Regions from separate parts of the Homo sapiens genome. Here all the other regions are reported to be linked to region 3. Evidence: microRNA targets listed by miRTarBase, many of them from high-throughput screens and not tested one by one. Region 3 holds a microRNA gene; each other region holds the end of a gene's coding sequence.

Region 1 (4,086 bases), not on the chromosome of region 3:
AGGATTGTTACAGAAGGACACATTACAATTTTCCTTAACTGTTATTTGTTTTTCATGTTTAATATTGTTTATAAAAAAAGTTACTTCACTGTAAAAAAAAAAAAGTTGTACATAAACTTGATCACTGTAAGATAATCAAATTGCATTTCAGTTGCAAGTACACTCTTTTGTTTTCCCTGTCACTTAGGGAACGGTTATCATCATTGCAAATCATGGTGACAGAATTGATATCCCACCTGGAGCAGTATTAGAGAACAAGATTGTGTCTGGAAACCTTCGCATCTTGGACCACTGAAATGAAAAATACTGTGGACACTTAAATAATGGGCTAGTTTCTTACAATGAAATGTTCTCTAGGATTCTAAAATAGGCAGGTACTTTACTATGTTACTGTACCCTGCAGTGTTGATTTTTAAAATAGAGTTTTCTGCAGTATGCTTTTAGTCTAAGAAAAGCACAGATGGAGCAATACTTTCCTTCTTTGAAGAGAATCCCAAAAGTTAGTTCATCTTAAAGTGCAATATTGTTTAATCTTAAAACTGGGCAACTTTGGAAGAACTTTTAACAGAAGCCTCAATGATGATCACTTTGAATTGCTTGTGATTTCAAAAATAAAGCAGTGAAGCAATACTTGTGTACACTGGTACTTTATAATGCTAACTATAAACTGGTTTATTGTTGTTAGACAGTTACTATATTAGTTGGAAGATTTGCCCTTTAAGTACACACTGGCTAGTTACCTAGCCAGTGTGTACTTAATGAGTCCAGTTTTTGGCATTTCTAAGAATCTTAATCATACCATTATTTCCACAGGAATTAAACTGAAGGTATTTTCTTTAGTACCTACCTTTCATCTAGTTCTAAAACTGGGATGCCTGCCATGCTTTCCACAAACTCTCCATTTATTGAAACAAAGTGGCATTTATTTTCCCAGCTGACGGGGGTGGGCAAAGGGAAGGCATTTCTTCACATCCTTGTACTCTTCTATAGTGAGGTAGGGGGTATAGCTTCATAAAAAGTTCCCTTTCCCTGAAGCTTCATTTCCTGAAGCTTGTTTATTATCACTGAAAAAATGATCATTAATAATCTTTCCATTCAGGTCTGCTGGTAGTTCAATTTATGCCTTTTCTTTAAATTCATCCATACTTGTTTTGAGTAGGCTGCTTGTTTAAAGTTCACAATATACCACTTAAAAAAAAGTTGCCTTTTAAAGTCTGTTAATTTTTTACAGCTTTATTTTAGACAGATAGTTTAAGAACCAAAGACATACCTCTGTAATGATAAAGGAAAGAAAACAAGCTTTCCTTTTAAGAAACCAAAGAGCACAAAATAAGACTGTTTCATTATACATAATCACCACAGGATATTAGGCACTCTGACAGGGTTAGGCAAGATTCTTGGTGTGAGGTGAAGCACAGGCACTTTATTTGTACAGTGCTGCTGATTCTAATTTTGAAGGTAGGTATTATAAAAGTCTTTACTTGTCACCTTATTTCTGGCCCCAACACAGCAGCCTATAGTTTTAAAAGTTCTGTTTCTCCCTGGTCTTTGTTCGTATACACATCGAAAGTAACTTAAAAACAAGGATCCAAGGGGGCCATACTTCATATGTTATCTAAATGTTAATATGAGAACTCAAAAGTAGGCAGATTATATGAATACATATTCTTACCTCTGCTACAAATAAAAACACCCCAAACCCTTCATCATACTTTTATAAAAATACAGATATTAAACTGTAGCCTTTTATATACCATTTCTGAAAAGTATTTAGTTGCATAAATAGATGCCAGGATCTTTTTTTTTAAGTATTAATTACTTAAAAAAAGGCTTAAGTCTTTCAGGTATTTAGAGAGCTCTGGAAGGCTTTACCCAGTTGACATACGGTGGTAGTAGAAATATTAAATATGCAACACACAAAGCCTGCAACTTGACATTGGTCACTGAAACAAAAATTGAATTCCTAAATCCAAGCAATCAAAAGATGTTTATTTTTTATAGAAAGATCTGTAAAAAAATAATAATTTTTCAAACAGCTTTACTTTCATAGAGAAAACTTTCTACAGAAGTTGACTAAGATTTTAAATTGTACCATCATTAAATAAGGTGGGACACCATATGAATTTCATTGCACTGGAAGAAATGCAAAGCATTTTTTAATATAAAGTATACAGAGCATTCTAGTCAACTACAGCTGTGTTACAGCTATGTGTTCTTTTGGATTTGGTCCAAAGAAACCTGAGTCTGTTTCCAGAGAGAATGAAAAATGTTATAGACACCTGATCAGTTACTCCTCACTGTAGGATGCACAAAAATGACATTCCTTGTAGATCCCACTGAATCCAGTTTCCCAACACTTGATACTTTCCTTTTTCCCTTCCCCCACCCCAGTTCACTTTGGGTTTCAGGTTCAATTCTCGAATCACAGGCATCCAGATTTTCTTCATAACAAACACATCCCATGGTCAGATGAACTACCCAGTTTTCCAGGATGACATCACCTCTTCTGCTCCCAAATTTCGGCCATATTTAGGTCCAAATCTTTAAGGCCTTTTAAGGCTTGAAGATTTCCAGTGTAAAAAGCTACATCTGCTGTGACCAACCTAAATAATGGAGAGAAAATTATTTTTTAAATCTCAAACTTTCTATTCAGATAATTAAAGTAACAGTGCTCACCGAGTCAGAGTCCTATTATCTAAAATTCAGATTTCTTAGTGCCCAAGTGTCCAAATACTTTACTTAGCAGGATTCCTGCTATGAATAAGTAGGCCATTTAATGCTGTACTTCAATAATAAATATTTGGAAAATGAATAAACCAATGGCTGTTAGAGTCAGTTTCATGATAAATTCAGCCCAAGAAAATCAGATTTATCTTGAAACAGCATGAATTAATATACAGAGAAAATAACAGGCTAAACTAAAATGTTTTTGATTGGTTAGCACTAGAGTATGGGAGTGCTGACTAAAATAGTAAACTCAAGGGAAAAGCAGGCTAGGTTTCTAAGTGTCATCTAAGGCGTTAAATACAGACTAGTATTCATGTATATAAGCGATACTGGATATTTCTTTAAAAACCCAAGAGAAAAATAGGAAAGAACATAAGAAGTCACAGATGAAAACACCTGAATAACCAATAAACTGAAAAAATGGTAAACGTCAGGAAAATGCAAATCAAAACAAGGTACTACTATCCCCCATCAGACTAGCAACAATTAGGAAATCTAACAGCAAATGTTGAAAAGATGTGGGAAACAAATTCTCACAAACTACTCCACTAATGTGGGAGTTGGTACAGCCACTGTCAATACCTAACAATATGAAAAGTGTATTAGCTCCAATTCACTTATAGGTATATGCCCTGAAGAAATGGTCACACCATTAGACATGTATAAAGATCTTCAGTATGGCATGGTTATAATGGAAAAAAGTAATGACTTAGCAATTTATCACTAGGGGAAATGTCTAATTTATCTATGGCTGATTCATGGCCAGGAGCAGTGGCTCACACCTGTAATCCCAGCACTTGGGGAGGCTGAGGCAGGAGGATCACCTGAGCTCAGGAGTTTAAGACCAGCCTGGGCAACATAGTGAGACCTCGTCTCTACAAAAAATTAAAAAAATTAGCTGGGTGTGGTGCCACACACCTGTAGTCGCAGTTATTGGGGAGTCTGCAGTGGGAGGATTGCTTGAGCCACGGAGGTTGAGGCTGCAGTGAGCCATGATCACACCACTGCCCTCCAGCCTGTGTGACCATGAGACCCTGTCTCCAAAAAAAAAAAAAAGGTTGTTTGATGGAATACTGTACAGCAGTCAAAAACAGACTACTAAACATATATCAACATAGATAAATCAGTAAAAATGCCTAGTAGAAAGCAAGCTGCATATATGCAATATACCATATAAGTAAATTTACAAAACAGCACTACATATTTTTCATAAATCTAGGTACAATAAATAAGACTAAAAGAATGTAGACTAAATTCACTGGAAATGTTACCTAAAGGCTGGGAGAAAAAGGGAATCGGACTGCAGATGGGGTGTAAAGGTGTACTTAGCTTCATCTGGAATGCAATTTTTTGAATACC
Region 2 (4,090 bases), not on the chromosome of region 3:
GGGAGAAGAAGTATCCGTGCCGTTACTGTGAGAAGGTATTTCCTCTTGCAGAATATCGCACAAAGCATGAAATTCATCACACAGGGGAGCGAAGGTATCAGTGTTTGGCCTGTGGCAAATCTTTCATCAACTATCAGTTTATGTCTTCACATATAAAGTCAGTTCATAGTCAAGATCCTTCTGGGGACTCAAAGCTTTATCGTTTACATCCATGCAGGTCTTTACAAATCAGACAATATGCATATCTTTCCGATAGATCAAGCACTATTCCTGCAATGAAGGATGATGGTATTGGGTATAAGGTTGACACTGGAAAAGAACCTCCAGTAGGGACCACTACATCTACTCAGAACAAGCCAATGACCTGGGAAGATATTTTTATTCAGCAGGAAAATGATTCAATTTTTAAACAAAATGTAACAGATGGCAGTACTGAGTTTGAATTTATAATACCAGAGTCTTACTAAACTCCTTTGAAATACTAGAAAGTTTTGTTTTGGATGATGGGGCAGGGGTTTCAGAAGATCTGTAAAACAAATTAAGGTGCGAACAAGTTAATTTGATCTGCCACATTATCTGAAGGAAGTGTAGTGGGATTTTTGTTGATAATTTTTAGAAGCAAATTTTCCTGAAAGTTTTGAGTAGAGGTGAGACCCCCTCCCCAAGTATCTGTTTATATAGTTAGTTTTCAGCTCATTTAAAAGAGGCAAAAATTAAAAGCTTGGAGAGATAGTTTCCTGAATAGAATTTGAAGCAGTCTGAATGTTCTTTGAAAATAACTGGAGTTATTAGCATACCCTAGTACATCTTACAGCTTTCCCCTTCCATGTTAGCACTTTACTGCTGAATTCTCAATTTTCTTAACATTGAGACAATAAATGTGTGTTTTGTCTTGTATATGGCATAAAGAGTAAATAAGTTTTAGAGTTGTTCTGGAAAATGTCAGAATAAGTCAGTACTTGGGTTGTGTAATCTGCTAGTCCAAGCGAACAGCAACCTCCTGCTACCCTCCCTCTATGAAAATAGCCATGCAGACAAGTCTCTCATCTGAAGAACAAATTAGATTTAGCTAATTAGAATTAATCCTGGCTTTCATTGCCATAGTCTGTAAAAGACTTTGGTGGCTAGACCACTTTATACCTTCGCAGTGTGGTCTCTGGGGGCAAAAAACTAATGAAAACAATCTCTGTAATGGCAGATAGGAGGAGATGAAAAGTTCTGTTGCATGGATTTTTAATTCTCTGGCTACCACATAGTAGAGAATGGAATGAAGATTTCCTTTTGGCTTCTTAAGGTTAAAAATATTCCCATGAACATGAAAATTTTCAAATTTTGAATCTGAAAGCCACCAAATGTATCTTTATGTATAAATCCTTGTAAATGATAGATTCCATGGGTGAGACTTTACATATTTTGGGTGGGAGGCTACTGGCATATATTTTTAAATGTTCATATTGCGTAGAATCTCCACTAGGAAGTCTTTATTTGAAATAGTTGAATCAGTGATCTAGTATTTTCCTTTCGGCAAGATTTGTTAGGTTTTTACCCCTTCTAAAATAAGTTTTATTCCATCTGCAAATTGCTGCAATATTATAGTAATCAGAAACTACATAAGGAATGTTATATAGGCTTGTCAGTTCCCATTTTTCTTGACAACAATAAATACCACTTTTAAAAATGACACATATTTAAACACTTAGAAAATAAAGTTAACACTTACTGAAGTGCTAGTACTAAACTGTGCTAGTACTAAAAGAAAACAGGTTGGAACATACATATAGCCTAGCATTTATAACAGAATTGTTGAACGTCTGTAAATGATTTTTTTTTTTTTTGCAAAGGAAAAAATTGATACTGGAAAAGATTGTTGTGCATAGTTATTAGTCATTTGTAACCTTGCTTAAGTATTTCTTAGTCCAACATAGATATTTTCTTTCTCCTGACCATGTATTTTAAAATATAGTCTATTTCTTGACTTTGAACTTAAAGCTTTAATCATAATTTCTCATGTATACATCGTTCTTCTGATGGTAAGCTGGATTTGAAGGTAGTGGTTTCAGTGTTTCTTAAGTTGGTAGCTGAGGGTATCAGGCATCAGTTCATGCAATAATACAAGAAAAAAAATCCTTTGCTTGCCAAGAGGTAGAGTGATGTGCATTTATCTGTTTTCTGTTCTGTAAGTCTAGACCTTCAAACCATTTGTAAACTAACCCCTGGGAAATTTGAAATTACCTGATAACTTAAGACTCTGTGATCTCTGGAATCACCATATGTTTCTTTTTTGTGTAGATATTAATAACATTACTCTTTGACTATAGTGTGCACTCTGAAATGTACTCAGTGAAAATTTGTTTTGAGTTTCATTAATGCTATTTCACCAGTTAGACATAATTACTTCTACCGATGTGAATGATACGGATGCCGGCAGAGCTTCCAGATCTTTCAGACTCAACTGCTAGGTCAATTAGTTTGTCATAATAAAACTTGGCAGATTCTACAAGTCTATTATGACAAACCAGGAACTAATTCTATAATGGAAAACTATCCATTCTGAATAATAGGTATGTAATTATTTGCTGCTGCTGCTGTGCTCTGTAAATTCTGAATATGACATTTAAACTCTGTGCCTACTAAAGGTATCTTCTGGAGTTTTTGGGAGGAGAGAAACTGGAAAATTAAATTGTATTTTTGCCAGAAGACTCTTACTTGCATGTGTCTCAGGGTCTTCAGTTTTTCTATAAGTTTCCATATCCAAAGTTCAGAATTCATGTGAAATACTTCTTTGGGGCAAAAGTCCTTCATTCCTGGTATTTATTGGATTGGAAATCTGTAGCAAGATGCTGTTTAAAATTACCATATTGTTTTTTTATCTTATACTTAGCTCTCTGGCTATTGAACTTCCTTTTCTTGTTTGAAGTTAGCTTCAAATTTGCTCCTATGCTAAATTACCTGTAAATATTCTGGATAGGAACTACTTGAAATAGTAATTTGTTAAAAGATATGACAAAATGAAAATGCTTAAACTACAGAAATTTAAAAATGCCATAACAATCTTGCGAGACTAACTTTAAAATATACTTTAAATGATTATTATGATTTTGGTGGTAACGATCCCCCACACACAACCACTATGAAGAAATAATGCCGCATTTTTCCCCCATTGTACCAAAAAGATAAAAAAATGGTAAACACTGATCAAGGTATTTTGTATTGTCAAGGCATGCATATTCTAAAGAATTAAATGCTAACTTAACAGCACTGGCTTTCTGGCTGGTCAACTATATGAAACCTTGTTCATTCCTCCGAGTACTGTAATGTTCACACTTGTACAATCTTCCCTGTCATGACTTTAAGTTCTACTTTTCATTAACCATGGCCTGATATTAGTTCTTAGAGCTTCTTGTGGCAAAAATAAAATGATTTAATTCTGATGTTTGAGTGCGTGTTTTACAAGATTGTCTTTCAGAAATTATATGGGTTTTTATATTGTTTTTCAATTTTTATAGCAGGAGACTGGGGCTGTATTTCTGATGACAGCACGGCAAAATTTCCCACTAGGTTTTATATGTTGGTTAAAAATGTCCCCTTTTATCTTGAACCCTAATAGTCAAAAGTGAGTCAGCTGCTGTCAGTTGCTTTAGAGCGTTTGCTGTACTTTTATAGCTACCTTGACACAAGTGGATAACGAGGGGAGGATAGTTTTATTCATTTGAAACATCACAAAAGCAGTCTGAGTTTTCAACATGGCAGTGATACAGATTTTAAGCAACATCCAGTTTATACAGTTTCTGGATTAATATTTTAATGTTTCATGCCCAGTTCAGTACTTTAAAGCAGAATTAGGAATAAAGCAGTAAATATTACAAAATGCAGTCAAGATACATATTGGAAATACAAATCCATTCATTACAGCAAATGTTTTGCAAAAGAGTAAAGCAGCAAATATTAATTTTTCTAAGGTAACATGCACTTTGTATAATTCAATGTAATAAAAAAGCTGCTCAAATTAAGTGTTACAAAATCTATACTGTTTCAGGTTATTTTGTAAAGTAAGAAAAATACATAGAAATGAGCCATAGAATCTTAACAC
Region 3 (4,077 bases):
GGTGTGTGTTTTTCACACCACCACTTCCCGCTACAGACATGTCCAGAGCCTCAGATCAGCTTTTAAGTGGAAAATTCCACACTTCATATCATAGGGACACAGGAAATTTTGTTTCCTACACTATTTATTTTTTTTGAGACGAAGTCTTGCTCTGTCACCCAGGCTGGAGTGTAGTGATCTCAGCTCTCTGCAACCTCTGCCTCCCAGATTCAAGCGATTCTCCTGCCTCAGCCTCCTGAGTAGCTGGGATTACAGGCGCACGCCACCACGCCTGGTTAATTTTTTGTATTTTAGTAGAGAGCAGTTTCACCATGTTGGCCAGGATGCCCACCTCTGCCTCCCAAAGTGCTGGGATTACAGGCATGAACCACTGCTCCTGGCCCACAAAAATATTTTTAATAAAATTACCTTCAGGTTATGTGTATCAGTTGTATATGAAATACAGGTGAATTTCATGTTTAGACTGGAGTCCCATCCCCAAGCTATCTCATGCATATGCAAATACTCCAAAATTTAAAGTTTAAAACACCTGCTCCCAGGCATTCTGGATGATAATCTCTATCGCTATTTTCCCATGAGCCTCCAGTGTTCTTTCCGGTTTTTACTCCCTTTTAAATATTCTGTAAACAGTTCTCTTTAAATAAAATATATGTTTTGCCATGTCATGCGCTCAGAGGAGGGGTCTGGATCCTCTCTTAATGACAGACGGATTTGTCTTACAAAGGCCATTTTCCCGAAAAAAATAGGAAATAACTTGGAGGATACTGGTGGGGGCTATACGTTTGGTGAAATCCATCAGTGATATTCAAGCCAAGCAAATAATCACCCACTAATTTGTGTTTTCCACTTAAAATTCTTGGAGGGGACCATGTTAAATGGGGAGCCCTGGTACAGAAAACAACATGGGCTCATATTCACTCCCTTCCCCATCTCCCTCTTCTGCTTCCCCATGAACCTTCCCCCACAGGCGTTACATAGCCATGTGCCGCGAGAAGCAGCCCATGGTGCCAGAGTCTCTGGCTGACTACATCACAGCAGCATACGTGGAGATGAGGCGAGAGGCTTGGGCTAGTAAGGATGCCACCTATACTTCTGCCCGGACCCTGCTGGCTATCCTGCGCCTTTCCACTGCTCTGGTAAGTGCCCAAATTGCTGGAGGGCCATCTGTTTTGACCCTTAAAGGGGTAGCTCCTTACCGTGCTCTCATTGCCGCCTCCCCACCTCCCGCTCCAGCCCTGCCGGGGCTAAAGTGCTGACAGTGCAGATAGTGGTCCTCTCCGTGCTACCGCACTGTGGGTACTTGCTGCTCCAGCAGGGCACGCACAGCGTCCGTGGAGGGAAAGGCCTTTTCCCCACTTCTTAACCTTCACTGAGAGGGTGGTTGGGGTCTGTTTCACTCCATGTGTCCTAGATCCTGTGCTACAGACCTTCCTTTCTGTCCTCCCGTCTTGGACCTCAGTCCTGGGGGCTCCAAAGTGCTGTTCGTGCAGGTAGTGTGATTACCCAACCTACTGCTGAGCTAGCACTTCCCGAGCCCCCGGGACACGTTCTCTCTGCCAATTGTCTTCTTGGCTGAGCTCCCCAAGCTCCATCTGTCATGCTGGGGAGCCCAGTGGCGTTCAAAAGGGTCTGGTCTCCCTCACAGGACAGCTGAACTCCGGGACTGGCCAGTGTTGAGAGGCGGAGACTTGGGCAATTGCTGGACGCTGCCCTGGGCATTGCACTTGTCTCGGTCTGACAGTGCCGGCCCAACACTGCGGATGCTGGGGGGAGGGGGGATTCCACTCCTGTTTTGTGAGTAGGCGACCCATGGGCTGCCCAGCCTTAAAGCCAGAACAAGGGTGTCCCCTGACCTCGTTCCACTGCCCTCCTCCCGTTCCCATCTTTCCCCCCTACCTTCCCCTTAGGCACGTCTGAGAATGGTGGATGTGGTGGAGAAAGAAGATGTGAATGAAGCCATCAGGCTAATGGAGATGTCAAAGGACTCTCTTCTAGGAGACAAGGGGCAGACAGCTAGGTGAGTGGTTTAGTGAAGGACAAAGCTGTGTCACTTTGTCTTCTGTGGCCATGTGTCTGAGGTTGGCCTCAATTCTAACACTGGCCACCATTGTTCTCTGTTGATGTCGAGCATTCCTGTTTGTATCCTGACCTTACACACCCACTCATTTCCTTCAGGACTCAGAGACCAGCAGATGTGATATTTGCCACCGTCCGTGAACTGGTCTCAGGGGGCCGAAGTGTCCGGTTCTCTGAGGCAGAGCAGCGCTGTGTATCTCGTGGCTTCACACCCGCCCAGTTCCAGGCGGCTCTGGATGAATATGAGGAGCTCAATGTCTGGCAGGTCAATGCTTCCCGGACACGGATCACTTTTGTCTGATTCCAGCCTGCTTGCAACCCTGGGGTCCTCTTGTTCCCTGCTGGCCTGCCCCTTGGGAAGGGGCAGTGATGCCTTTGAGGGGAAGGAGGAGCCCCTCTTTCTCCCATGCTGCACTTACTCCTTTTGCTAATAAAAGTGTTTGTAGATTGTCATCTTCTAGCCTGGGCCTGACTTCCATTAAAACAGGGTTTTGTGCGTTTTTTAGATTCCTGTTCGTTTTTATGCTATTTCATCCACTCAGTAAATTACCTGAGTAAAGTGCATCTCCCTGCCAGGCCCCCAGTATAGACACTGGGGATGCGGCAAGGACTAAGCGGTCCCTGCTGTTTGGAGATACTTAAGATGGGGCTCCACTTTTTGAGCCCCCCGACTCCCTTATTTGGTCTTATACTGCCTGTGTGCAAGTCAGGCTCTGGGGATATGGCGCCAGTATGAAATGCAGGGTCTCTTGGTTTTTCCCCTTTTCTAGCAGACAGGTCATTACTTAGTTCCCAACTCCCACTCTAAAGCTCTGGTTAGCGGGTGATGAAAATCAGCACAAGTGATCACATACAGCAATCCCAACCTTTAGACCACTTCCTAGCTGCCTCTCCAAAATATGTAGTAAACGGTCATTGAGAAACTCTCCCTCCTGGTAATTCACAGTGCCCACAGGATCAAGGCTTGGACTTCTTTCTAATAAAAATCTGCTTACTATCCCTTCTTTTTTGCGTATGTGAAAAACAAGTTAATTTAGCTCAGGAAAGTAGTCAATTATCATGTTTATAAGGTTGGGTGGGCTAGGTAAGATGATGTAGAGGGTGACATTAAAGTGTAGAACAGAGACCACTTAGGTGGAAGCAGGCAGCCTTGGACTTTGCTAAAGACCAGTCCATGTGACTGACATGGGGTCACTTCAAATGGTAGTGCCTCCCTCACTGAAGAGCATCAGAAGGGCTTCTGAGCAAGGCCAGAATGAGCCTCGATGAACATCCAAGTTGACCAACCAGTGTGGTGCCTAACAGAGGACAGAGCCACCAGCAGGGGTGCTCAGGGGCTGCTCCCCTTTTATTAATGACAGCGGTTTCTCTCAAGGAAGTGTAGTGCCCTCCCCTTTGGGATAGTTGCCTGACCCCTGTCCATCAGCCCTTCAAGTACCCTCATCAGAAAAAGAGCCCGCGCATTCTCCTGCCGATGCCTTGTCGGTCGTAGAGGACATTGAACTTGTTCACAAACTGGTTCATGGTGTTGCACGTTTTGGTGATGGTGCCGAGGTAGGCCATGAGCCCCACGTCGTTGCATTGCTGGGAGGGAACAGAAAGGACCAGTTCCTCGGGATCCCTCGTGGCATGCCCGGGGAACAACAGTCCCCAGTCCTGCACGTGAAAGTGACAGCATAAGCCCCGCCTCCCCATCCGGGTTTTACACTCACATCATAAAAATCTGTCTTGAACTTGTCTGTGCTGAGCACCGGGAGACAGTGACACAGAGCATAGGCCTCCCGCAGGATCTCATGATTAAAGGGGACCTCTCCTAAAGGCACAAAAAGAGACTACATTAGTTTGGATGCTGTCACTTCCCCAGGAGGGAGAGGAAGAATGCCAGGGAAGCCCCTGTCCTACCCGCTTCAGAGGCCTTGACGTACTCCAAGATGAGCTTGACGCGGCTGTGCAGCATCTTGATGGCGCTGTGCTGTGCTATCAGGTGTTCAGCCACTGCAA
Region 4 (4,090 bases), not on the chromosome of region 3:
TCGTCAGTTTGAACCCAGTGTCCTGCCCTCCAAAAATCCTTTGCACTTCCTACAAGATAAATCCTCACTCCCGTGTTTGGTAATGTCCTCTTTAGGCTGCCCCAACCTGCTGCTGCTCCTGACAAGAGCCACCTTGGGCACATGTTCTCAGGATCTCCTGGGGCTGTGTCAGACTTGTTTCTTATCAGACTTAAATCTATTTTGGCGTAAAACACTTTGATTTCTCTCAGGACTTACTGTCATGTTGTTATTGCTACAAAGAGTCTGTTTTTGTTAGTCTTAAGGTCTCTGTTTTAAGGCAAATGCTGGTCAACTGTGCCTACAGGTCACTCATATTTATCTCAGAATAAATCTCTTAAAATATTTTACCATTTGACTTTTTCCATTGTCATCTGGTTCAGGAAACAAGAAAGTGGTAAAGTGATAAAAAATTATTTAAATAGATCAAGACAGTGATACGATTTACCACAAGTCTAGATATTGTCCATTTTTAAAAACTTACACAAACAAATATGTTTATGATTACAAATGGTAAGATATGACTTCATATCAGTTTTCAAGAGAACACCTCTCCAAGGAAGGGAAATTTACACAGGTTTCTGACTGATTATGTAGGCTTTAGGTAAGTAGAGAAGGTGCCCCCGGCTGATAGAACAGCTAAGGTAAAGGTTTGCAGGCTGAGATGTGGAAAGGCATGTCTGAGGGATGACAAGAGAGCATTTGTGTGCAATGGAGGCTTCTGTCAGGAGCAGCAGGAGGTTGGAGCAGCCTAAAGAGGGCATTATATACCACACACGGGGGGTGAGGATTTATCTTGTAGGCCGTGCAAAGGATTTTTGGAGGGCAGGACACTGGGTTCAAACTGGTAAGTATGGTTAATATGGCAAGGATACATGAGAAGAGGAGACAGATTTTGGACGAAGACCAGTTACAAAATTGTGACAGATGTCTAGGTATAAAGTGATCTGGGTAGGTACAGAAAAGGGCACTGGGAAAAAAGGGAGAGACGGAGCAAGAAAATATTTGCTATTTCTGCTCCTGTAAACCTTGGCTGTCCAGGAATAAATTTCTGTGTGATCTTGACCTCAGCTGTCCAAGTACTTCCAGATCCAGATGCCTCCTGTGCATCCTACCTGCCCTGGCCAACCTTGTGGACTCTTAGACCCAGCCTGTCTGCATGGGCCCACTTTGAGCTGGTTCCCTGAATTCTGGGCTCAACTTCCTCATCTGGACTTTAAATGCTTAAAGTATTTTCCTCAGTATAAGCTAATCCTTATTAGGCAAGTATCCTTTGGTCTACGCCAGCTCCTGGTCTAGGCTTCTCCACCTGAGTTACAGAGCCAACATGGTAGGAACTTTAAAGCAGAGCCTGACAAGGTTCTGAGACCCAGTAAATGTAGGGGTAACTGTTACAGAAAATAAAAAGTGATACCAAAAATGCATAGATGGCTTGAAGTAACAAACAAAACAGGAATACTTGTTTAGCAATGGTTGGTATATGTGTAAATTTGATTTTGAAAAATGATTTTATTGAGGTATATTTACCATAAAATCTGCCCATATAAAGTGAACAATTCAATGATTTTTAGTGAAGTTACCAAATCGTTCAACCATCACCACCATCTAGTTTTAGAACATTTTCGTCACCCTAAAAAGATTCCTTGTAACATTTGCAGTTACTTTGTTTCTGAAGATCTGCCATTTCTGGACATTTCCTAAAATGGTACTAGAAAATACCTGGTCTCTGGCATCTGCCTTCTTTCACTTAGAATCACGTTTTTGAGATCTGGATTGTGCATAATACCCATATTTTAGTTGTTTTTTTTTTTTTTTTCTGAGACGGAGTCTCACTCTGTCTCCCAGGCTGGAGTGCAGTGGCGTGATCTCGGCTGACTGCAAGCTCTGCCTCCCCGATTCACGCCATTCTCCTGTCTCAGCCTTCCAAGTAGCTGGGACTACAGGCGCCCGCCACCATGCCTGGCTAATTTTTTTGTATTTTTAGGAGAGACAGGGTTTCACTGTGTTAGCCAGGATGGTCTCGAACTCCTGACCTCGTGATCTGTCCGCCTCGGCCTCCCAAAGTGCTGAGGTTACAGGCGTGAGCCACCGCGCCCAGCCTATTTTAGTAATTTTAATGTTTAAACAAGGTTTCATTTCATTTCAAAAATTCCAAATCTATTAGCATAAAGATGTAACAAAAATTGCTTTTTGCTCAATCCTAGACCACTCCATTGCCTCACAAAGAAAGGTAACATGTGCTACAGAGAAAGAAGTGCATAGAGGTGTTGTACTGCAAAGATCCAGTCTATTAATCTCCATACTACAGCTGTGAACCACAGGAAAGAGGCCCAGCCCAGTTAGGACTATAGGCCAAGGCATGTCACTTTCTGAACATCAGTTTTATTAGCTCTAAAATACGACTGGGCTAGATCATGGGTAGCTGTCTACCTTTCTCAGCCTCCATCCTCTGCACCCATGCATGACACCCTGCCCCGTCAGTAACAGCATGAGGAGGCAATGCACAAGTGTCGTTATACAAATGGCCCCACCAGGCAGAAAATCACCAGACAAGGTGATTTCTCAGCTTCTTTTCAGCTCTAGTTTTATACATCTCAAGTTGGAAAGGAACTTTCCTCACATTCATCATGTTCCCAAGGTTTCTCTTTGAGATGAATACTGAAGCTTGAACTCTACTAATGGGTTTTCCCAGTTTCACTAAATTTGAAGAGTTGCTCTAGCACAAATTCTCTAATGTACAAATTCTCTAACGTGTTTTGGTGGAACATCCACCAAAGCCCTTCCCACATTCATCACGTCACCAGAGTTTCCAGCTAGTAGGGAGAGTTCTAAGGGGTTTATAAAGCAATGAGGTTTGGCTGAAGGCTCTCCCACATTACCCACATTCACAGGTTTTTCTCAGGTATGAATTTTCTGATGCTTAATAAGGGATGAGCCCTGACTGAAGGCCTTCCTCTATTTCCTGCTTTCATAGGGCCTCTCTCTAGTATGTGTTCTTGATGCTTAGTAAAGGAAGAGATACAACTGAAGATTTTTCCATACTTACCACACTTGTAGGATTTCTCTCCAGTACAAGTTATCTGATTTTCTTAAAGAATCAGTATGTAACTGAAGGCTTGCCACACTCACTGCATTGATAAGGCTCCTCCCCAGTGTCGGCTGTCTGATGCTGAATAATATGCATCCTCTGATCAAAGCGTTCCCACATTCATTACATTCACGTGGTTTCTCACTAGTATGGATTCTCCCATGTTTGGTAAGAGAGGGGAAGCCCACCCCCTCTTGACATTGACAGGGATTCTCTTTAGTAATTATTGCCTGATGTGGAACAAGATGTGGTCTTCCCACATACATTACACCTTTAGGATCTCTCTCTGATATGAATTCTTTAAGTTCCAGTGATGTCTGCACTCCAGCTGAAAGCCCTTCTATATTCACTGAATTTATAGGGTTTTTTTTCCAGCATGACTTCTCTGATGTTTAATAAGGGATGCAGTATGAGCAAAGGCCCTTCCACACTCATTACATTTGTAGGGTTTCTCTCCAGTGTGAAATCTGTAATGTTGAGTGAGAGATGAACTCTGGCTGAAGGCTCTCCCACATTTATTACATTTGTAAGGTTTCTCTCCAGTATGAAATCTGTAATGCACAATGAGTGATGAGCTCTGGCTGAAGGTTCTCCCACATTCCCGGCATTCATAGGGCTTTTCTCCAGTATGAGTCCTCTGATGCTTAATAAGGGATGAAGTGTGACCAAAGGCTCGTCCACATTCATTACATTTGTAGGGTTTCTCTCCAGTGTGAAATCTATAGTGCAGAACAAGAGACGAACTCTGGCTGAAGGCTCTCCCACATTCACTGCATTCATAGGGCTTTTCTCCAGTATGAGTTCTTTGATGTTTAATAAGGGATGAAATATGACCAAAGGCTCTTCCACAGTCACTGCATTCATACGGCTTTTCTCCAGTGTGACATCGCTGATGGCGCCTAAGTTCTGACTGGAAGTGAAAGGACTTCCCACACTCATTACATTTACAAGATTTCTTTTCTGGGTGGGTTCTCTGAGAGTTGT
Region 5 (4,090 bases), not on the chromosome of region 3:
ATGGGATCCAGGAAGGGGCGCGTAGATGCTTAACGGTCTCTTCGGAAATCCTGCAAATAGAAAGATAATTCTAGATCCGGAATACCTGTATCTGGTGGAAACCATGGATTTCTACAAGCTCGAATTATTCCTCATTGTATAGCCTGCTTTGTAAACTAGTTTACAATTTGCAGGCTGATCTTAAGATTTTTTTATATCTAATTGCTGCTGCCTTCATTTTAGGTTCAGCAGTTACTTTTAACTACCTTAATTTATTGCCAGAAGGTATGAGCCTAACATTCTGATGAGTCCAGAAAACTACGTTTTGTCAGTAGCAATACACTAGGAAGTAAAATATATTTAGAATTTAAACATTGTGTGCCAGTGGTCCTCGCGCTTGACTGCACATCAGTTACTTGAAGAGCCACACCTCAGATCAATGCAGTCAGAACCTGGGAAGTAGGTCCCAGACATCAGGACCTTTTTAAAGCTCCCCAAGTGATTCTACGTTCCCCAAGTTTGAGGACCACTTTTCTGTGCATTGGCTTGCACAATTTGAAAGTAATGCTTTTCCTGAGCTGGATCCCAGTGTTGCCTTAACAGGGTGTCTGTCGTGCCGCAGTAGAGCACTGCTGCTTCCTCCAACCCCAAAATTTATGTTCCTAAGTAAGTCAGGTCCCTAAGCCCCGTCCCAAGAAGTGACACAAGTGGCCAACATCCACACTGTAGGCTTGCAGGCTACCCGCCCTGAGATTTGGTAAAGAACACTGCCTTGTTCCCCATCAGTAAACAAGGTTACCTACCTCAGGAGGCTGCTTGTGAGAGAGCAAATGCAGTATCTTCAGAATGATTTATTTTTTTAATTAATTGTAAAGACTTGTGCCATTGGCTGCTCTTTCTAGTCCCCTAAATTTCTGTTCTAGTTTTAAATTTCTCTAGAACTTGCAATAGTTGGGGGTTTTATAATGATGTTTTACAATGTTTATTTCTTAAATAAAAACTTAAAAATTCAACATTTCTCAGCTGGTGGCTCACACCTGTAATCCCAGCATTTTGGGAGGCCAAGGCGGGAGGATCACTTGAGGCCAGGAGTTCAAGACCAGCCTGGGCAACACAGTTAAACCCCATCGCCACAGAAAATCTTCAAAAAATTTGCCAGATATGGTGGCACACAACTGTGATCCCAGCTACTTGGGGTGGGGCTGAGGTGGGAAGATCACTTGAGCCCAGGAGGTTGAGGCTGCAGTGAACTGTGATCACACCACTGCACCACAGCCTAGGCAACAGCGAGACCTTGTCTCAAAAATTTTTTCTCAAATCAAACATCATTGAAAATCTACTTTTTATAAGCTTCAAATCACAACATCTAGTATGTATGCTGACAGTGATGTTTTTAAATGCCATATATATTTAATAAGTATAATGTAGAGGTTTATTGTTTAAATGAATTCACTCTCAAAATGTGATCTGTCAAGTCCAGTAGAGCTTCAAGGTAAAATGAAAATTTTTAAATGTGATCTGGTTATCTGCTTACTGAGATACTATGTTTCTAAAGTTAAAGCCCAAAATAATGAAAATTTTTCCACTAGAATCTCAGGGAAAAAAAGTCTAATCTTGATATGGGTTTGGTCTCTGGATCCGGTTTTAGCTTCATGAAATTTGATTACAGTTTCTCTCTCTTTAAGCTATACCAGTTGGGGGTGAGTGAAGAAATACCCATAACCTAAAGCAATCTTGAGCCTCCTAATAGCATGTTTATGGTGGAGCGCTGATTAAATAAGCTGTAATTTCAAAGTTAAAAAAAAAATAGTCTCTAGATTCTAACACTGAAAAGCAGTGTATATGGCTGACATTTTCTCACTCCACAGAAATCAATTAGCTTTTGCTGTTTTTTACATTCATAGAGAACCAGTTAAATTTTCATATCCTGTTAAACTATATCAGTATGCCTTTTCTAAGCAACCATTGAAACTTCCAGCACCAGCGGCCAGGTACTGTGGCTCAGATCTGCAATCCCAGCACTTTGGGAGGCCACAGCAGGTGGACCGCTTGAGCCCAGGAGTTTGAAACCAGCATAGACAAAGTGGTGAAACTCCATCTCTACAAAAAACACACACACAAAAAATTAGCTGGGCATGGTGGCATATGCCTGTAGTCCTAGCTACTAGGGAGGCTGAGGCAGGGTCAAAGCTGAAGTGAGCCGTGATTGCACCACTGCACTCCTGGCTGGGTGACAGAGCAAGACTCTGTCAAAAAAGGAAAAGAAAAAAAGAAACTTCCAGCACCACTAAATTTGCCAAATAAATTTGACTGATGCCAAAACTGAAGCTGCCAATGTAATGAAATGTTAAGGTGGCCATAGGACAGTCCTTTTAATAAAAGCTTCCATGTAAAACCAAAATAAAGGTCAGTATAGAAAGTATCATGGGGTATATAACAAACTGAATTTTTGGCTTCCAATCCAAACTGGGCTAAATGGTATGTTTATTTTAAACAAGGAATTTGCCATGGACAAGATCTATCTGGCTTACTGTGAGTTAGAAGTACGCCCTGCCGTAACACTGGTATTTCCACATAGTATGGAAGAGGAAGAGAGGAAAACTTAATTAAGTGTTGCAAAATTGTTTGAGGACCTATTTTGGTCCATTCCTTATCAACTCCATGTGTGATTTCAAGTTATCTAAAGGGCATGTGACTTTATTTCTGACTAACATCAAGTTCCTCTCCTCATCATAACAAGGCGATTCAAACCTAAACTGTGATTCTTAGGAGATGCTTCCAAGGGGAAGCTCCCTCGTTGGACATCCAGAAGATTGCATTTTCTCTTCAGAGTACAATTTTCCATCTGTCAGAGCATGTCTGAATAAAAATTTGAACCTACTACAAACTACATTAGAATAATTTTCAAGTATTTTTCTGTCACAAAAATGGTGTGACAGAATGTGTTGAAAAACACAAAGTTCACAGCTGAGATTAATTTAGATAACCTAGTGGTTAATATGCTCATGAACATCAGCAACAACCGTGCATTCCTTGGCAGATGGGATGCGATGGAAACCAAAGGTTTCCTTAAGGCAAGCACTTCACAACTAGTTTTCTGTCAATTCTTGCGTAAATCACATTCTGTATTCATACAAAAACTTTGTTTTTCTCTGACAAACTGTACACATAGAAACAAATTTCCAAATGGACAGGAACTTAAATTTGTGGAGATGCCCCATGTCTTGTGAGACTTAAAAAAAAGAAAAAGATCCCAGCTTTTATCTTCACAAAACAACATGGGAGTTGGGGCAATGAGGGTGGACAGGACAGGGCCAGCCAGGCTGGTAGCTGGCAGCAGTCTCTTCATCTTGAAGACCTCATTGAGGGTTCCTGGGATTCAGGTGCCCAGAAAAGAGTTCAGGGCTACAATGGTGCAGGCTTCCTTTTGTTTCTCTTGGTGAGTCCACAAGAAGTTCTTACATACTGTCCAGAGAGGCCTCAGGGTACTCAGTTCCAGCTTCTACCGACCCCTTCCACCACCCCGTGAAGCTCCTCGCCTCGGCGGGCCAGAGTTCATGTTACTCCCTCTACCCCAGTTACTGCCACTCCGGCCCCCTCGAGAAGGGGTGCCACTGCCTGGAGGGCCCCCAAAAGGTTCATCTCTGTGGTATCCATCGTGGTGCTCTCCGTCTAAGGAGCTGGAACGCCCAGATTTGGGCACTCTCTGAGCAGGTCCTGGGCCCCCTCGGCCTGAAACAAAGAAAATTTCACATGGGACTTTTTGTATTAGCAACTGTTTGTCAGTAACTCCCAGTACAAACTTTACTCTCTGATGACAATGGACCAGTTCTGGTGGGTGCCAGGGAGACTGGCAGTGGTATTCAGCGTACTGAGAGGTGTGCCTCTACCCTTTCCTGACCCTGCCTCCCCCTTCCTGGCTCATGGCCATGGGCCTCAGCATCAGCCAGATCCATGCCCCCAGGGCTGTGTGACAGACGACAGGAAGCCAAGAGATGAGCAAGGAGCACCTTCAGGGAGACCCGGGCCACACTGGGCCATGTCCCAGGCCATGGGAAGTGTATCTGCCTGCTCCCAGCCACCAGGGTATATTGAGGGAAGGTTTGAATAT
Region 6 (4,090 bases), not on the chromosome of region 3:
TTTTAAGATGGTATTCGCCTACTACAAAAAAGGCATGATTTTTTTTTTACCTGCCATTGTAAGATTGCTAGTGTTTTTGGATGAAAGGCACCTGAGAATCATAAGTATTAGAGATTTGGGCAATGTTCTCCACAGGTGTATTCAGTATTGTCGCCTAGTATTAATTATGTGTTCATTATGCATTTGTACCAATGTACCTTAATGGAATTTAAAAAAGAAGTCTTTGAAGTGACTTTTTATCTATCACTAGCCAAAATGATCGTCTCAACTCTTCCTAATCAGAAGAGTCACTGGTCAAATACCACAAAATTGGAATCTTAATCATTTTTAAGCCTAAGCCAGTGGCTCACTTATTGGAACAAGGATCATACTACAGAAGGATTTGAACAGCTCTTAAAGTTAGAAAATAGAGAATTTGATCCACAAAACATTTTGGGGTGGATATGCCAAAAACTAAACCAAACTGATTTAGAAATTTTTATTTTGACAGAAGCGATCCAAGCAGCGGAAGTTACAGCAGAAGGCCTTCCGCAAGAGGCAGCTGAAGGAGCAGAGGCAGGCCCGGAAGGAGAGGCTCAGTGGGCTCTTCCTTAACGAAGAGGTGCTGTCCTTGAAAGTGACTGAGGAAGACCATGAAGCAGATGTTGATGTTTTGATGTAATAAGGGTGAATTTATCAACGTTCTTTGTGAGCATTAAAATACTCCATCCTTATGGGTTTACATGCATCTTGACCAAAATTTTGGTTAGGGCTGTGCTGATGTACCATTAATAATTTAAGCCAGTGGTTCTTGGCAGGTGATCCCAAGACCTGCAGCTTCAGCATCACTTGAGAAGTTGTTAGGAATGCATACTAGTGGGCCCCGCCCCCAGACATAGTGAATCAGAAACCAACAGGGAGGCGCCTAGCATTGTTTTTTTAACAAGTGCTGGGTTATTCTGATGCACAGTCTAGTTTAAGAACCACTACTTTGGGTAAACGTTTTGACTGTTTAAAGTTTATGGCGGTGAAGTGGGCGTCTTCAAAGACTAGTACTTACACAGTTTAGAAGATTTCAAGGTACTGCTGACAGTAGTTTATTATGTCAGTATACATACATGTGTAGAGATCATAATTTAGTTCCCTTCTTAATGTTACAATTTCTTAGTTTACTTTTCCTAAAGGGCCATAGCATAATTCTTGATTCCTGGTGGAAATCTTTTCTGAGGTGTGGGGGTGGGCAAGGTGTGGATTGCTGTTTACGATAGTGCCTTCATTAGTTTTAGTTCTGTCTGTTTTCATTCATTATTGACTCAAAGGTATTAGAACAGGCCCTTATCTTTTTCCTATTAGATTTATTTTTGTTTTTTACTTTATGTAAGTTCAGAATCCTTTTTTAAGTGATGACTACTGATGAAATAATGTTACTAGTAGCTGAATTTTAGACTTGATGCTATGTTGATTAATATTTAAATGGTGAAAGTAATTAGGCAAAATAAGCAATTCTGCTTTTCTGTTGCTTTCAGAATTTTTAGGCTGTAAAATTGTCTCAGGCAGGAAGTCAGTCTATATCTCTCTCAAGTTCTTATTGTAGGTCATTTTTTTTTCAGCACAGCTCTAATTTTTAAATATTTGGTATAACAGCTTCTGGCATGTGACCTAGTTAATGTTGAAAATTAACTGATGAAAACCCTTGTAGATCTGCTAAACTTCTCTATAAATTGCTAGAAATATACAGAGCAATGAGATATAGAAAACACCTTAGCTTGTTGGTTATTAATAGAGCTCTAATTTTAACTGTGAAATCATGGAGTTTCTTTAAATGTTTTCCTAGAGTGTTTGTTATCATGAACATTAGAAATAGCATTATTCCTTTTCTTCTACCACATGTCTTGAACATTCACATGGGTTAAAGAAGATGGAAACTGATACTACTGACAATCAAGCTGCTTTCTGACTTTCATAATTTTCTTTATATTGTGGATAGCATTTTGAAGGTGACCGTGATTCTGTAGGAAGAGCTGTAATCAATATTTTTCAAACTCTAAGAGTACAGAGGTTAGTAAGATTTCTTTTTTTTTTACTTTTTGTTACGTCAAGTAGCTTATTAAGAAAAAGATTCATGACTTAAATTCTTAATTCTCAGTTGATACAAAGGCTTATAATCATGTGTTTTAAAATTTTGATTTCATTTTCGTTCCTTGAAGGTTAAAGAATGGAAACTGGGGATAAAAATTAATACACTGCAGCTTTGCCAAGGTCTGTGATATGGTTGTAACCTTTTAAAGACTACTAAAGTCATAATTTGAAATTTTTACTAAAATAAAACATATGTGTCTATGGTTTTCAATTGGAGTAGTCTTTCTTACTTTCCCCCTTCCCCTCTTTGGTTCTCCTAACCAGCTTAGAGGACCCAAAGAGAGCTTAGGGATAGACACCAGAATACTCTGTGGAGGTGGAACAACTTAACCTCACTGTTTTCCCTTCCAAGTATAGGAAGAGCAAATAGAGCATAGTAACTGTATCTAAATTCTCTACCTGCTCTTAGCAAAAGCAAAATCCCACAGAATGATTGCCTGCTGTCTTTACCTATTCTTCAAGGAAAACAGGCCACTTTTGGAGACCATAGAGCACCATTTATCTGTCAAATACTTGGAAACTATTTACTTAACGGTCATCAGTAAAAAACCCTAAACAAGGTCATGATATAATTTAAGACCAATTCCCCTACTCTCCCAATAATCACATAGTCTTATTACTTTCAATTTAACTTGAGTCACTATTAAGCAAGTTTACCAAAGTGCCACAAAGTTGATTTTTAACGTTTGTAAAGGTTTGAATGTTTATAGAAGTGCATCATGAAATTTTGTGTAAATCCAGATGAACTGTCATTATAGTACTATAAATTAGAGATAGTCCATAAAGTTGGGTTGAAGGAGATTGAAAATATTTCCTTTGATTAAAAGAAAATAATTAACTAACTTGGGCTTGCTTGTGATTGAAGAGGGAGATTAGATAGTCCTCTGTCCCCCCAAAAAAGAAACTAGCAGAGAAAGACATAAAAAGCTCTTTGGTGTCTGTTCATGTGCTGTACATTTTTTCCGTTTTAATGTCTTGTGTAGATAATTCAAAGTTTGAACTATTTCTTTCTTGGAATAAGTAATAATTTATTCAATATGGTGTATCTCTGAGTTCAATTTAAAACAATCCAACTCAGTAATATTTATTTTTAAATACAAATCCTAACTAACCAATTAATTAATAAAAAGGCAAGACTTACTTGCTGTAGTATTGGTTCTCATCTGTAGAGAACTGACATTGGAGCAAATTTTAAGTCTCCCCTTTGAAAATAAGCCTTGTTAACTGAGGGCGTAATACATTTCCCACAGATTTATCCAGAAACATTTTATTAGAGATCTTATAGTAGTATCTCAGTTCCTACTACAGCTTTCTAAAGGATGAGACTTGCATTTAACAAAATGACATATATAATATTTTTCTATAGTTTTGCAACTGAATTAAAGGAAGGTGATGTATTATAATGTGTAGTGAGGTATAAAGGGCTAGTTCATTCTCTCCCAACAAGAACTTAGAATAAAATAACACTTTTTTTTCATGAGACTTACCTCATTTTTGTTAGGCTATGGCAGTTTTGTCCAGTTCCTCTGTCCCTTGAGTGAATTAGATATTGGTGAATTAATCTCAGAAACTGACCTATAAAATAATGACTCATTATAGATTGGGTGAACTTCTCATTTTATTTAGCTTTTAAAAGTGCTAAATCCTCTCATAAAGGAAAAATTATAGGAAACTATAGCGGTATCCAGATTCTGATGAGCTTTAAAAATTATAAAATATAGCAAATGTCTTCATATTTTAGCCAGAAATATTAGTACACAACCAATATAGAAGTCTTGTTTGTTTCTGGGTTCTCCAGCAGAGACTTTTTGTTTGTGGCTTACTCTGTATAGCCTCATGTGCCTTAAAGGTGGTGAACTCTAGTTTTTGTCAATATCAGGCTTTTCAAAACTCAAAAACAATCCAAATGTTGTAATTTGTTTTGCATAATGCCCATGGAATTGGATATCAGTAAGCAAAGCCATTAAATCGA

The links. The annotated mature microRNA hsa-miR-106b-5p reads UAAAGUGCUGACAGUGCAGAU and lies in region 3 at 1,246-1,266, shown strand. An mRNA with a match to its seed (bases 2 to 7 or 8) in the 3' UTR can be bound and repressed. Matches are read on the target gene's strand: a 7mer-m8 pairs with bases 2 to 8, a 7mer-A1 pairs with bases 2 to 7 and ends in A, and an 8mer does both.
Region 1: miRTarBase lists UGP2 as a target of hsa-miR-106b-5p. The part of its 3' UTR that is shown has no 7-base or 8-base seed match.
Region 2: miRTarBase lists ZBTB33 as a target of hsa-miR-106b-5p. Seed matches in the 3' UTR shown: 8mer at 833-840 and 7mer-A1 at 1,131-1,137.
Region 4: the mRNA of ZNF514 is a reported target of hsa-miR-106b-5p. Seed matches in the 3' UTR shown: 7mer-m8 at 2,079-2,085, 7mer-A1 at 1,563-1,569, 7mer-A1 at 957-963 and 7mer-A1 at 417-423.
Region 5: miRTarBase lists WDR33 as a target of hsa-miR-106b-5p. The part of its 3' UTR that is shown has no 7-base or 8-base seed match.
Region 6: the mRNA of FAM199X is a reported target of hsa-miR-106b-5p. The part of its 3' UTR that is shown has no 7-base or 8-base seed match.

What each region holds. Positions count from the first base shown.
Region 1 is chr2:63,890,933-63,895,018 of GRCh38, forward strand. It overlaps UGP2 (UDP-glucose pyrophosphorylase 2), which reads left to right. Exons shown (of 10, transcript NM_006759.4): 10 at 188-628. The coding sequence ends at 295. It overlaps VPS54 (VPS54 subunit of GARP complex), which reads right to left. Exons shown (of 23, transcript NM_016516.3): 23 at 1,218-2,603. The coding sequence ends at 2,498. Among named protein-coding and RNA genes, the nearest start is that of UGP2, 51 kb to the left of the region's middle.
Region 2 is chrX:120,254,968-120,259,057 of GRCh38, forward strand. ZBTB33 (zinc finger and BTB domain containing 33) reads left to right here. Exons shown (of 3, transcript NM_001184742.2): 3 at 1-3,431. The coding sequence ends at 467. It overlaps TMEM255A (transmembrane protein 255A), which reads right to left. Exons shown (of 9, transcript NM_001104544.3): 9 at 3,683-4,090. Among named protein-coding and RNA genes, the nearest start is that of ZBTB33, 6.2 kb to the left of the region's middle.
Region 3 is chr7:100,091,232-100,095,308 of GRCh38, reverse strand. MIR106B (microRNA 106b) reads left to right here and starts at 1,235; the gene lies at 1,235-1,316. It overlaps COPS6 (COP9 signalosome subunit 6), which reads right to left. Exons shown (of 10, transcript NM_006833.5): 8 at 3,979-4,071; 9 at 3,789-3,889; 10 at 3,122-3,660. The coding sequence ends at 3,520. MCM7 (minichromosome maintenance complex component 7) reads left to right here. Exons shown (of 15, transcript NM_005916.5): 13 at 968-1,136; 14 at 1,908-2,017; 15 at 2,176-2,581. The coding sequence ends at 2,377. MIR25 (microRNA 25) reads left to right here and starts at 1,666; the gene lies at 1,666-1,749. It also overlaps MIR93. RefSeq lists an enhancer at 3,589-3,883.
Region 4 is chr2:95,145,821-95,149,910 of GRCh38, forward strand. It overlaps ZNF514 (zinc finger protein 514), which reads right to left. Exons shown (of 5, transcript NM_032788.3): 5 at 1-4,090. The coding sequence ends at 3,462. Among named protein-coding and RNA genes, the nearest start is that of ZNF514, 12 kb to the right of the region's middle.
Region 5 is chr2:127,702,842-127,706,931 of GRCh38, forward strand. WDR33 (WD repeat domain 33) reads right to left here. Exons shown (of 22, transcript NM_018383.5): 22 at 1-3,711. The coding sequence ends at 3,482. It overlaps SFT2D3 (SFT2 domain containing 3), which reads left to right. Exons shown (of 1, transcript NM_032740.4): 1 at 1-2,401. Among named protein-coding and RNA genes, the nearest start is that of SFT2D3, 3.4 kb to the left of the region's middle.
Region 6 is chrX:104,189,118-104,193,207 of GRCh38, forward strand. FAM199X (family with sequence similarity 199, X-linked) reads left to right here. Exons shown (of 6, transcript NM_207318.4): 6 at 491-4,090. The coding sequence ends at 661. Among named protein-coding and RNA genes, the nearest start is that of FAM199X, 25 kb to the left of the region's middle.